3 linked regions of the Homo sapiens genome follow. Changing the gene in region 2 together with the main gene of any one other region gives a genetic interaction. Each region holds a gene or a part of one and is shown on either strand. Other genes may lie near its edges.

The links. Genes that interact genetically often act in the same process or in processes that back each other up.
Region 1: changes in MAP3K5 (region 2) and NPY4R together harm fitness less than expected from each alone (positive genetic interaction), as found in Homo sapiens cells (one large-scale study listed by BioGRID).
Region 3: of MAP3K5 (region 2) and PPP5C, changing one suppresses a phenotype caused by changing the other (phenotypic suppression), as found in Homo sapiens cells (one study listed by BioGRID).

The regions. Positions count from the first base shown.
Region 1 is NC_000010.11:46,463,159-46,467,140, forward strand, and holds the start of NPY4R (neuropeptide Y receptor type 4), read right to left. Parts: upstream 2,801-3,982; 5' UTR 2,520-2,800; intron 1,575-2,519; exon of another isoform or gene 728-1,574; 5' UTR 572-727; intron 1-571.
Region 2 is NC_000006.12:136,610,978-136,614,477, reverse strand, and holds part of MAP3K5 (mitogen-activated protein kinase kinase kinase 5), read left to right. Parts: intron 1-191; coding exon 192-319; intron 320-1,221; coding exon 1,222-1,358; intron 1,359-3,090; coding exon 3,091-3,196; intron 3,197-3,500. UniProt on the Homo sapiens protein: Serine/threonine kinase which acts as an essential component of the MAP kinase signal transduction pathway. Plays an important role in the cascades of cellular responses evoked by changes in the environment.
Region 3 is NC_000019.10:46,381,587-46,385,086, reverse strand, and holds part of PPP5C (serine/threonine-protein phosphatase 5), read right to left. Parts: exon of another isoform or gene 2,563-3,500; intron 1,677-2,562; coding exon 1,611-1,676; intron 1,308-1,610; coding exon 1,209-1,307; intron 284-1,208; coding exon 178-283; intron 1-177. UniProt on the Homo sapiens protein: Serine/threonine-protein phosphatase that dephosphorylates a myriad of proteins involved in different signaling pathways including the kinases CSNK1E, ASK1/MAP3K5, PRKDC and RAF1, the nuclear receptors NR3C1, PPARG, ESR1 and ESR2, SMAD proteins and TAU/MAPT.

The DNA of each region.
Region 1 (3,982 bases), on a different chromosome or scaffold from region 2:
CAGGGAACATGGGTAGAATGCCCCTTGTCACATTTTATCTTAATGGAGACAGCAATAAATGCCACTCTGCACAGGATTGCTTGTGTCCTTCCACGGCACCCCATTCCCTTCAAGATAGAGCTAAAGCCTCGGGGATCCACAATCAGTGCACCCTCCTGGTCTCAGCCCCTCCCTGCCCTGGTAGCCTTGTTTTTTAGGTGATACCTGGCAAAACTGAAGACTGCCCAGTATGCAAAGCCTGGCTCATCAGCACACCAGCTTCTTCCTACTACCCACCATGTGCACAGACATACCTGGCCAAAGTCACAGGTGCCCAGTGCCCTCCACAGAACCTACTCCATGACTATGTTCAAGTCACTTGATGCAGTGTGCAGCTCACAAGCACACCAGACTCTTCCACATCTCTATGCCCTGGTACAGGCTGTCCCTTCTCCGAGGACCTCCTCAGCACAACGGACCCCCTGCCAAGACTGAGTTGGAATTTAGACTCCAGAGTTCCCCCGTGTTAGTGCCAATGATGGATGTTTTGCATGGGAAGCACCATACCACTACATACATCATTGTGACTCACCTCTCAGATTCTCTAGTCATTATTAATCCCACAGGGTTGCAGTTCTCAACCTTCAGTAAACATCAGAATCATTCTAGAAGCATGTTGAAAGTGCAGATCCCAGGGCCCTTCCACCAGGAGATGTAGTTAAGTGAATCCAGGATGGGGGCCAGGAATCTGTATTTAACAAGTAGACTATGTGATTCTGATGCACATGGCCCTTGGACCCCATCTTGTAAAACACTATAGCAGAAAACCCTATTTGAGATATTCTTTAAGTCTCATATCATGGCCATATGTATTTTTTACATGATCAATTGCTATGTTAAGGCAGTTTTTGCAGAGCACAAGGCCAAAATCAACCAGAGCTCAGTAAAATCTATTTGTCGGCTGTCATGAATGTCACTTGCTGTGCATCTGATCTACTTATAAAGATGAGTTTCTAAGGTCAGGACTTCAACACCTGCCTGGCCAACATGGTGAAACCCCGTCTCCGCTGAAAATACAAAAATTAGCCAAGTGTGGTGGTGCATGCCTGTAGTCCCAGCTACATGGGAGGGTGAAGCAGGAGAATCACTTGAACCTGGGAGGCGGAGGTTGCAGTCAGCAGAGAGTGCACCACTGCACTCCAGCCTGGGCAACAGAGCGAGACTCTGTCTCAAAAAAAAAAAAAAGAGTCTCATTTGGTCATTTAAAAGATCAAGCTGTGAATTCACCTGATAGTTTACAGTCTGGTTATTTAGGAACCAGATCTCGAAGGCAGGAAGATTTCTCCAGCACTATGGTCTTCGGGCAAAAAGGGCCATTTGGGGCTGAACATGGCAAAATAAACTATTCCAGAGCCAAACACAGGGCCCAATATAAGATAAAGAACAGTCGCAGCTGCATGAACCTGTGGCAGAGGCACTGCACTCAGAAGCAGCAAATGGGCCAGAACCCAAGGCTCTGGGTGACCATCAGCAAGGCTTGGCCAGTGGTGTGGAGAAACACCATTCATCCCAAACCAACCACCTAAAGCAGGATCAGAGTGGAAGGACTGGGCTGGGAGGGCTCCAGAAAATGCTCACTGCTTCATTCACCCACTCAATAAGTGTGTGTCAAGCCCTGGGCTAGAAACAAGGGCTGCAAAGATGACTTATACAGTCATGGCCCTCCCAGAGCAGAGGGGCTGACCAGCACGAATGCAGATGGAACTCATTGCCATTGCCAACACCAATATGAAAGAGAGGCCTGTGAGTTGAGAGATCAGAGAAGGAGCAGGGAGCAGGGAGGTGAGAGAAGAGGTGGCAATGGTACAGGGCTCAAAGGCTGAAGAGGAGTCAACCAGCCAAAGGGACAGGGAGAGGAGGGAACTCGAAGTGCAAGGAACAGCATGTGCAAAGGCACAGAGGCAGGAAGGAGCAGAGCCTGCTGGGAAAAGTAAGCAGAATAAGAGGTTCCAGGGTGGCAGATGATGAAGCTGGAGTGGTGGGCCAGACCAGCAAGGTCAGGTCCATTCCAGTAAGATCACTTGGATATAGAAAATGGATTGGCAGAGAGGGCCAAGACAGGAGGAGGAGGAGCACTGAAAAGGTGGTGTTGGGCATCTGCCTGGGGCTGCTGGGCTTGGGGTACACTGACCAGTGAGGACCAGGGGACCTCAAGTCCCTCAGGCACACCCAAGGGGGTGGCGAGTGTATGAGGGGGAGGGTAGATTATTACGCAAGGTCAATAAAATGGTGTCTCTGCATTTTGTCCCCAGGCAGCTCTCCAGATACAAAAACTAGAACCAGCTGCAAGCCCCAACAGGGACCCCCTGCAGCCTGCCTTCCCAGTCAATCAGAGGAAAATTAATGAATCATACACACAATGCTAATCTCCCAGTGGGGTTAGAATAGGGAAGGCCCTTTGCTTTGTCTCCTGAAATCTCAGCAAAAGCTACTATATCCTAATGCCCATAGCGCCCAGACACCTCAGATGCACCCCTTACCTCCTTGGCTTGCGGCTTACAGGGTGCGGATGGGGCCGCCCATGTCTCAGGTGAGGAGACTGAGGTCCACAGTGGGGGTAGGATGCTCCCCAGATCCAGTGTGACGCTCTGCGCCCCGGGCCAAGGGCAGGCAGCGCGCCCGGCTTCCCGGAGGGTTCGTACCGGGGCCCACTCGGCCCCGCCCCCGGCCGCACTCCTGTGCCCAGGGGGCACCAGGCGCGGGGCAGAGCCGCGCCTGCTTCACCTGCTCCTGCTGCCCCGATGCTGCCTGCGTGCGGAGTGGAGCGGCTGCTACGCTCCCGCCTGCGCCCGCCCAGCCTGCCCCTTGCGCCCGCCCACGAGAGGGCTCCAGCCGCCCGCCTGCCCCGGGACCCCAGCACTCGCCCTGGGGAGCCGCATCTTGAGCCCCCAAGGCCTGCCCGGAACTGCAGCCCTGCCTGCGTGTGTCTCTCACGCCCACCTCAACCCTGGATACAGGCAGGCTGGAGCTGCGCTGTCTTTCTCTCTTTCTTTCTTTCTTTCTTTCTTTCTTTCTTTCTTTCTTTCTTTCTTTCTTTCTTTCTTTCTTTCTTTCTTTCTTTCTTTCCTTTCTTTCTTTCTTTCTTTCTCTCTCTCTCTCTCTCTCCCTCCCTCCCCCTCCCTCTCTCCCTCCCTTTCTCTTTCTCCAGGAGTGTTTCTCTCTGTCTAGGGGTGTGTGCGTCTGCCTGTCTCTCTCTCTCTCTGCCTCAGTTTCCTCATCCATGAAATGGGTATAAAAAGACCTGCCTTTCATAAGTTCGTCCAGAAACATTACTTGCAGACCTCCTATGAGCCTGGCTCTCCTGCTGGGCACCAGAGCTGGACAAGACAGGCTCCCTGTCCTTGGTTCCTTCTGGAGCTCTCAGCCCTGGGGGAGAAGACAGACAGGGTACAAGGAAAGAGGGAAATAAATTATTACAGGGGGTGAGATGCTGTGAGCAAATGGGTTCGATAGGCCAGATGGATGGCACAGCCACGGCAAAAGCCCTGAGGCTGGGAGCATTCAGCCCCTGGAGACCAGGGGAGGGCAGTGTGGCTGAGAATGTCAGCCAGGGTGAGGGAAGGAGATGGGCATCCAGGGTGTGAGTGAAAACTCAGGGTGGGCCCTGGAAGTGGAGTGTCTTATCTCAGGCAGTCCCAAGGTTGTGGCGATGAGAATTCAATGAGAATGGTCACTTTCTCCTTTGGAGCTGAGATGCACATGACTTGGCTATAATGGAACAGCTTTGCTTACAAGGGCTGCTCCTGTTTTGAATACACTAGCTTATAATTCCCTGCCCCCCATCCCCACATGGCAAAGTCACATATGCGCTTAGAGAACCTCCTGAGAGTAACAGATCTGCTTCAAGAGCACCTCCTAAACACTGGACATACACACCTGTCCAGTGAACCTCCTGTGGCTCCCCATGGAAATGTCCCCATGAAGTCATGGCAGTGGTCCCTCT
Region 2 (3,500 bases):
CATTTCCCCTCAGATCCTACCACACCTTCAACCTCATAGAATTTACCTTAGGAGAAATAAAGGCCTTAAGTGGTTGTTTTGGTTTTACATATGGACATATATTTGGCTGACATTTTCCATTTGTATTGTTTAAATTTATACAGTAAAGTCTGGCTACATAATTAACTCATTGACAATTGCATGTCTTTTAGATACTCTCAGCCCCTGCATGAAGAAATAGCATTGCATAAACACCTGAAGCACAAAAATATTGTCCAGTATCTGGGCTCTTTCAGTGAGAATGGTTTCATTAAAATCTTCATGGAGCAGGTCCCTGGAGGTAAGAGATATTTCTTTCTTTAAAAAGTGTGAATGTTTAGAGCTTCGGAGGGGAGTAAAATTGAATGGGATTTACTAGCGTACAGGTCTTAATCTGTCTAAACTGAAAGAAAAATTGGACATGTGACATTACCTCCAGTTTGTTAGGAGATGTCAACCATAAATGATGAGATTTAGAAAATATCCTAATGTATAGAGTTTATTCCAGTGCAAAGCTTGAGGATAGCCACCCAGGAAACACAGACTCCAAAAGAATGGGCCAGTGTTCCAAAGTGAGGAAGTTCATGTTTCACTTATATAAGCTGAAGACTAACAGGGTGGCAACATCTTCTACCCAAAGTCATTACATTTAAGTGGTTACAGCTTGCTGTATTCCAAGGCACATTATTTTAATGTTCCATAAGGAGGGGTAATGGTCTCGGGGGATCTTTTCTTTGGCACCATTCAGTCTTCTCCAATCATTTACAGGACAAAAATGCGGAAGAGATTTAGCCTATAATCGCAGAATCAGAAGTTACAACTGAATGCTATATGACTCAGGCCACAAAGTCACATTCCTTAAATAATAAGGCTCAAATAATTTAAAGTTCTAGAAGCTTTACATGTGAATTATGTAATTTCACAGAGACAATACATAAATATGGGAACCATTTCAGTATCTATCATCATGACTTGAATTAAAGTTGGCAATTGACATTGGCCTTTTACTTAGACATATTTGATTACAAGCATCTTTAGAGTAGGGATATTTGCAAATTCATGTTTGAGCCCGATATCCAGTATAGCTCCTGGGCCACTGTGAAGAACCAATGACTGTTAGCTTAAATTACTGTTACATTATTAATACACTTTAAAGAGCTCATTTGAATGAGGATTTATTTACTATTTATCCCTACTTTACAGGAAGTCTTTCTGCTCTCCTTCGTTCCAAATGGGGTCCATTAAAAGACAATGAGCAAACAATTGGCTTTTATACAAAGCAAATACTGGAAGGATTAAAATATCTCCATGACAATCAGATAGTTCACCGGGACATAAAGGTGAGGTACACCAGCATTCATTTTCATGAGTTCTTTCTTTGCTGGGTTATTATTTTACTTGCAAAAGTCATATTGTGTTATGAGTATTAATTTAGAATGGTGAATAAGTAAATCTTAGAAACAGCAGAAATATAAAATATCGTTCAACCCTGAATCAGTTATTTATGTTCATGTCTTAACGCTTCTGCTCAAGGAACACACTGCTTAACTGCGTTCAGCCAACAAGATTGTGCTCCCACCACACAATGTTTCCTAGGAGCTCTGTGGTGTGGGATGCAGCTGTCAAAAGTTAAACAGGAGATGGCCCCTGGTCCTGAGGAGCTTATAGGCTGGTTAATCTTTGTATCCTTGCCCATAGTAGCTACTCAGTAAATACTTATTGAATCAATGGATGAATGGTTAGAAGAAAAAAAATTCCTCTTTTCTCACAAGTATCACATATTCATTGATTTAACTATAATTATAAGGTATAGATTCTCTAAAATAAGCTAAAATAATAACTTTACATTCTCTTTTTAAAAAGAAAATTCAGAACTAATACATTTTTTACAAAGTCTGGACTGTTGAAAATAAGTTAATATTAGTACCCTAAAATCAACCAAAAAGCCCATTTATCTATCATGTCCCTACATATTCCAGGAAAAGAAGTAAAGAAACATAGAAAAGAAAGTAAGGTAACTGGAAAGTTATGAAAATCGTAATTTAATTATACATACATCATTATATATCTGTAAATAGCAACAAGCTCTAACCAATTAGGAATCATATTTGATCTTGTGATCTGAGTAGCAGATTATGAAGAACTTATAACCATCCAATGAGTTCATGTTGCCCACTGACCAGATAGAGCTGATTTCTCAAGATGTAAGAATTGCAATTGAGAAAGAGTTTAATACACATAGAGATGGCCAAACAAAATATTGGATCTTATAATTATTCAAATCAGCTTCTCCAAAAATTTAGAGGCTAGGGTTTTTCAAAGATAGTTTGGTGAGCAGGGGGCTAGGGTCTGGGTGGTTGGGGATGTAATTATAGGGGTGTGGAAAATGGTTCTTGTGTGTTGAGTCCACTTCTGGGTAGGGGCCACAGGACTGGTTGAGTCCAGAGTCACAGGTCTGGGTGATGCCATCTGATAGTCAGAAATGGAGAAGCCTGTAAAGACATCTCAAAAGGCCAGTCTTCAGTTCTACAATAGTGATGTCAATTATAGGAACAATTGGGGAAGTTGCAAATCTTGTGACCCCCAGAATAATGGGCTGATAATCATTTGACTGTGCCTACATCTTAGCGGACTTTAGGCCCCTCTCATCCTCCTAACCTGGTGGCCTTTCATTAGTTTTACAAAGATAGTTTAGTTTTGGGGAAGGGCTATTATCAACTAAACTATAAATTAAATTTCTCCAAGTGAGCTTGGTCTACACCCTGGAATGACCAAGGGCAGTTTGGAAATTTAAAGCAAGATGGTGGTGGTTAGATCAGATCTCTTTTACTGTCATAATTTTCTCACTGTTGTAATTTTCGCAAAGGCGGTTGGTTTCAAACTGATAATATGTAAACAAAAAATAGTGTCAAGAATGCACTATTGAGATAAACTATTAATGAAGAATACAGAATTAATGTCGTTGGTAGCTGTAAGGACACCTTTTTTTTTTTTAAATTGGACTTACCAAGTCAACAACAGACAGTATCTGAAGAAAGATAACAATTGTGATTAAAGTCCTCTGTTCTCTAGGGTGACAATGTGTTGATTAATACCTACAGTGGTGTTCTCAAGATCTCTGACTTCGGAACATCAAAGAGGCTTGCTGGCATAAACCCCTGTACTGAAACTTTTACTGGTATGTTTTTGCAATGATGATACAGATCTTATGTAATTAAAGAAATAATTGCTGAGTTTGAGCACAATGTGAGAGAGAAATTCAGTTGGTGTTCTCACACACAGTAATGTTGGTATCTTTTTTCTTTCTTTTCTTTTCTTTTCTTTCTTTTTTTTTTTTTTTTTTTTTTTTTTTGAGACAGGGTCTTGCCCTGTCACCTAGGCTGGAATGCAGTGGTGTGATCACCTATCACTGCAGCCTCAAACTCCCAGGCTCAAGCAATCCTCCCACCTCAGCCTCCTGAGTAGCTGGGACTACAGGCATG
Region 3 (3,500 bases), on a different chromosome or scaffold from region 2:
CGCGTCCTTTGGTGTGATGCTTTTGTGCAGTGCACTACATACTCAATCTTAAAAGGTCGCCCTGTGCATGATCTCCGAGTCCACAAAATAAATACAGCTGCAACTATTATCCTTGCAGAGTGAGTGCCCCACTCAGGACCCCACAATGAACCCAAACCTTGTCACTTCCCAGCTCACCTCGAAGGAGGTGAAAGTGATCTGGGTACAGGAGCTTGAAGCCGAAAAGGGTGAGGATCACTTCTACAGAGAAGGAGCCTCGGTCCACAAAGTCACCATTAAATATCTGTCCTGCTGAGGAAAACATGGCAAGCGTGGAGGGGAAGGGTGCGGTGCGGTGGGGTTGGGGGTGGTGGCAGAAGATGGGCCAGATGGGCTGCTCCTGCCTGGCCTCAAGCCTCCTGTCAGCACCTCCCAGGGAGTGAGGACTTGGCAGGGCTCAAGGGATCTGGGTTTCTAATCCTTTCCTCACCGTGGCTCCAGCCAGAGCTTGGCCGCTGAGCCTCAGTAGTATGGCACTGAGGACCCTGCCTCCTGTCTCCCGGAAAGCCAGTGGCGGGGAGGTGCGGGGACTAGTCAGTCCACCTCCTTCAGCTCTCCTCAGAGAGGCCTGGAGCCATGGGGGAGATGGGACACGGGCCCTCCCACTCAACAATGCATAGGCCTAGTGGCCCTACAAGTGGCCGTTCATCGAGCAGATACCATAACACGGGGAAATACTTAGATAGCATCAGGTGTGGGCCAGGCCCTGTTCTTAACCTGTCCTCTCAGTAACTGCTGAGTAACAAGGTTGCACATATTATTATCCCTCTTTGCAAATGGGGAAACTGTGACACCAAGCAGTGAAGTAACCTGCTTCGGTCACACAGCTGGGAAGTGGCAAAGCCAGGATGGAACCCAAGTGTGGCCAGTGCCAGGTGCCATTCAAATGTGATCCTGAGGCAGACGAAGACAAGCCAAGACCCAGAGAGACTGAGCTACCAGCTTAGGTCACACAGCAGGTGGGTGCTGGCCCAGGCCTGTCCGAGCCTGGAGCCTGGGGTGCATGGCCAGCCTGCAGCTCCACCCACACCTTGGTGCCCCAGCATGGCCAGGCCTCTCCTTTCCAAGGTCACGTCTTTTCCTGGCAAGGGCTCCTCCCACTCTGTGCAGACCTGAGGCTGCGGCTGGGGGTGGAGGTGGGGAGAGGGTGGCTCTGCTGAGAAGGATACATAGGGGTTGGTCTCCGAGGGTAAACCGTTGAGCTCGAATATGTTGAGGAGGTCATAGAACTGGCCATGGGTGTCCCCACATACTGTAATCTTCTCTGTCTGAAAGAAAAGAGGCCACCGGAGAGGGACGGGCCGAGAGAGAGACGTGGGGAGGGGGCAGAGGTGAGGGGAAGGGTAAGAGTTCACAGTAGACCAAGAAGAATCATGCAAGAGACACAAGCAGGGAACACAAACGAAGACCAAGAGGCCAGGAGAGAAATGGGATATTCAGGAGGAAAGGCACAGGGGTGGGGTGTGAGGGAGAGAGGGAGGTGGATCCGTGAGTTCCTGAGCTCTGTGGCCCCTCCCCAGCCAGAGAGCCCACCCCCGCTGGCCCTCCCCGCACTGCCCCACAACGCGCACCTCTTTGAGTGTGGTTTCCACGAGCGTGCTCAGCTTGGAGAGGACCTCTTTGACCTGTACCAGAATCTGGAAGGCAGGGCAGACTCAGTGGGACCGGCTGCAGGGGCTGCTGCCCAACCTGGCCCCGAAAGCCTGGACTGCCCATGAGACGCTGCTGGGCTGAGGGCGAGGGAGAAGCAGGGAGAGAAGAAAAAGGGCAGGGCAGGCCTGGGGGAGCGGGAGCAGGCGGGGCCGGAGGCAGCCGCAGGCTTCTGTGGCCTGTGCAGTGCCGAAGCATTGCGATTGTTTTGTACGAAAACCTGATTCTTGAATTATCTTAAAATACTCAGCATCAAGTGGAAATACATGCATGAATCCAGATCGTAGAACATTTTATAAAAGAACTGGCCTGGACACAGCGCAATGTCACTGTCATAAAAGAGTCTCCCAAAAAAGAAGTGAGACTTTCTAGGTAAAAAGAGGTAAAAAGGCAGGTCATAGGCAACACTGGTGCTTTCAACGGACGCTGAATTTTTTAAAAGCAGCTAAAAAGGATGTTTTGGGGAGAGCTGGGGAGAATTAAAATACTAATAGATGTCTAGAAATGCAGATGATTTATTTTTCACAGATTGGATATGACCTTGACAATGACATGCATATTTGTCAATGTTTCCAGATTTTCCGGATGGCCTGTGGACTGTCTACCTTAGTCAGTATTATCACATCAATGATGAATTTCTAAGGTAGGACAATTCAACTGTGGTCACACAAGAGGACGTCTTTGTTTTTGGGAGATCCAGGTTATGATGGCTGCAACTTACTTTCAAATGGGTTAGGGGAAAAAAAAGAAAAAAGTATACACATACAAATGCATAAATAAGTAGACAGACACATAAAGTTAATGCATTAAAATGTTCACAAGTGGTGAATCTGTGTGAAGGGTGGACAGATGTTAACTGTACTGTTCTTTCAGCTCTCTGTAGGTCTGACGATTTCCAAAATAAGCTGGGGAAAAAGGTGTTAAGAAAATGCAGGCGGCATCCACTTCTAGTCAGAAGGTAGAAAAGTTACAAAAGACTGTCTCGCCCTAAAGATGAAAACAAGCCAAACAAGCAACAAAATCAAAGGTAAAGCCATCTGAGAGCTGGCAATGCAAAGGGACCTAAATTAATCAAAATGCAGACAGGACGAGCCCTTCCTTGGGGAAGGAGCCCACAGCTTTCACCCTGGTGCGAGGCAGCAGGGCGGGATGCCCTGCGTGAGGGGAAATGAGTGGAAGTTCATGACCGTGTGGGGACTGGCGTGACAGATGAGGACTCCAGGGAGCCCCAGCACAGCCCGCCTCTGCCCCCTGCCAACTCCCTCACACGGGCTTCATGGAAGGTTGGGCGCGAGGGAGTGAGGTGCAGAGAAACCTCCTGAGGTACAGAAGTGGGGGCGAGACTGGAGAGCGGAGAGCACCCCAGTGGCCCCACAGTCTGGCGGCAGGGCTGAATACCAGAGGCCTCCCACAGTTCCAAAAGCTGGCGACTTTAAAACATAAAGACATCCCTGGAATTCTGCCAGGGCTAAGATCCCAAGCTCTGCTGAAGGGAAAGTCCTAATTCTACTCTGAACACATTTAAAGCCGGTGGTAAAGAAACTCCAATAAAAGCTGCCCCTAAACTACAGATGAGGTTCACACAGCCCCTCCCTCTTGTGGCTCAACAGGAGAAATGTGTGCCATTTTCTTATTTGTTTATTTGTTTTAAGACAGGGTCTCACTCTGTCACCCAGGCTGGAGTGCAGTGGCTCGAACACAGTTCACTGCAGCCTCAACCTCCCAGGTTCAGGTGATCCTCCCCACTCAGCCTCCCAAGTAGCTAGGACTACAGGTGCCAACCACCATGCCTGGCTAATTTTTGTATTTTT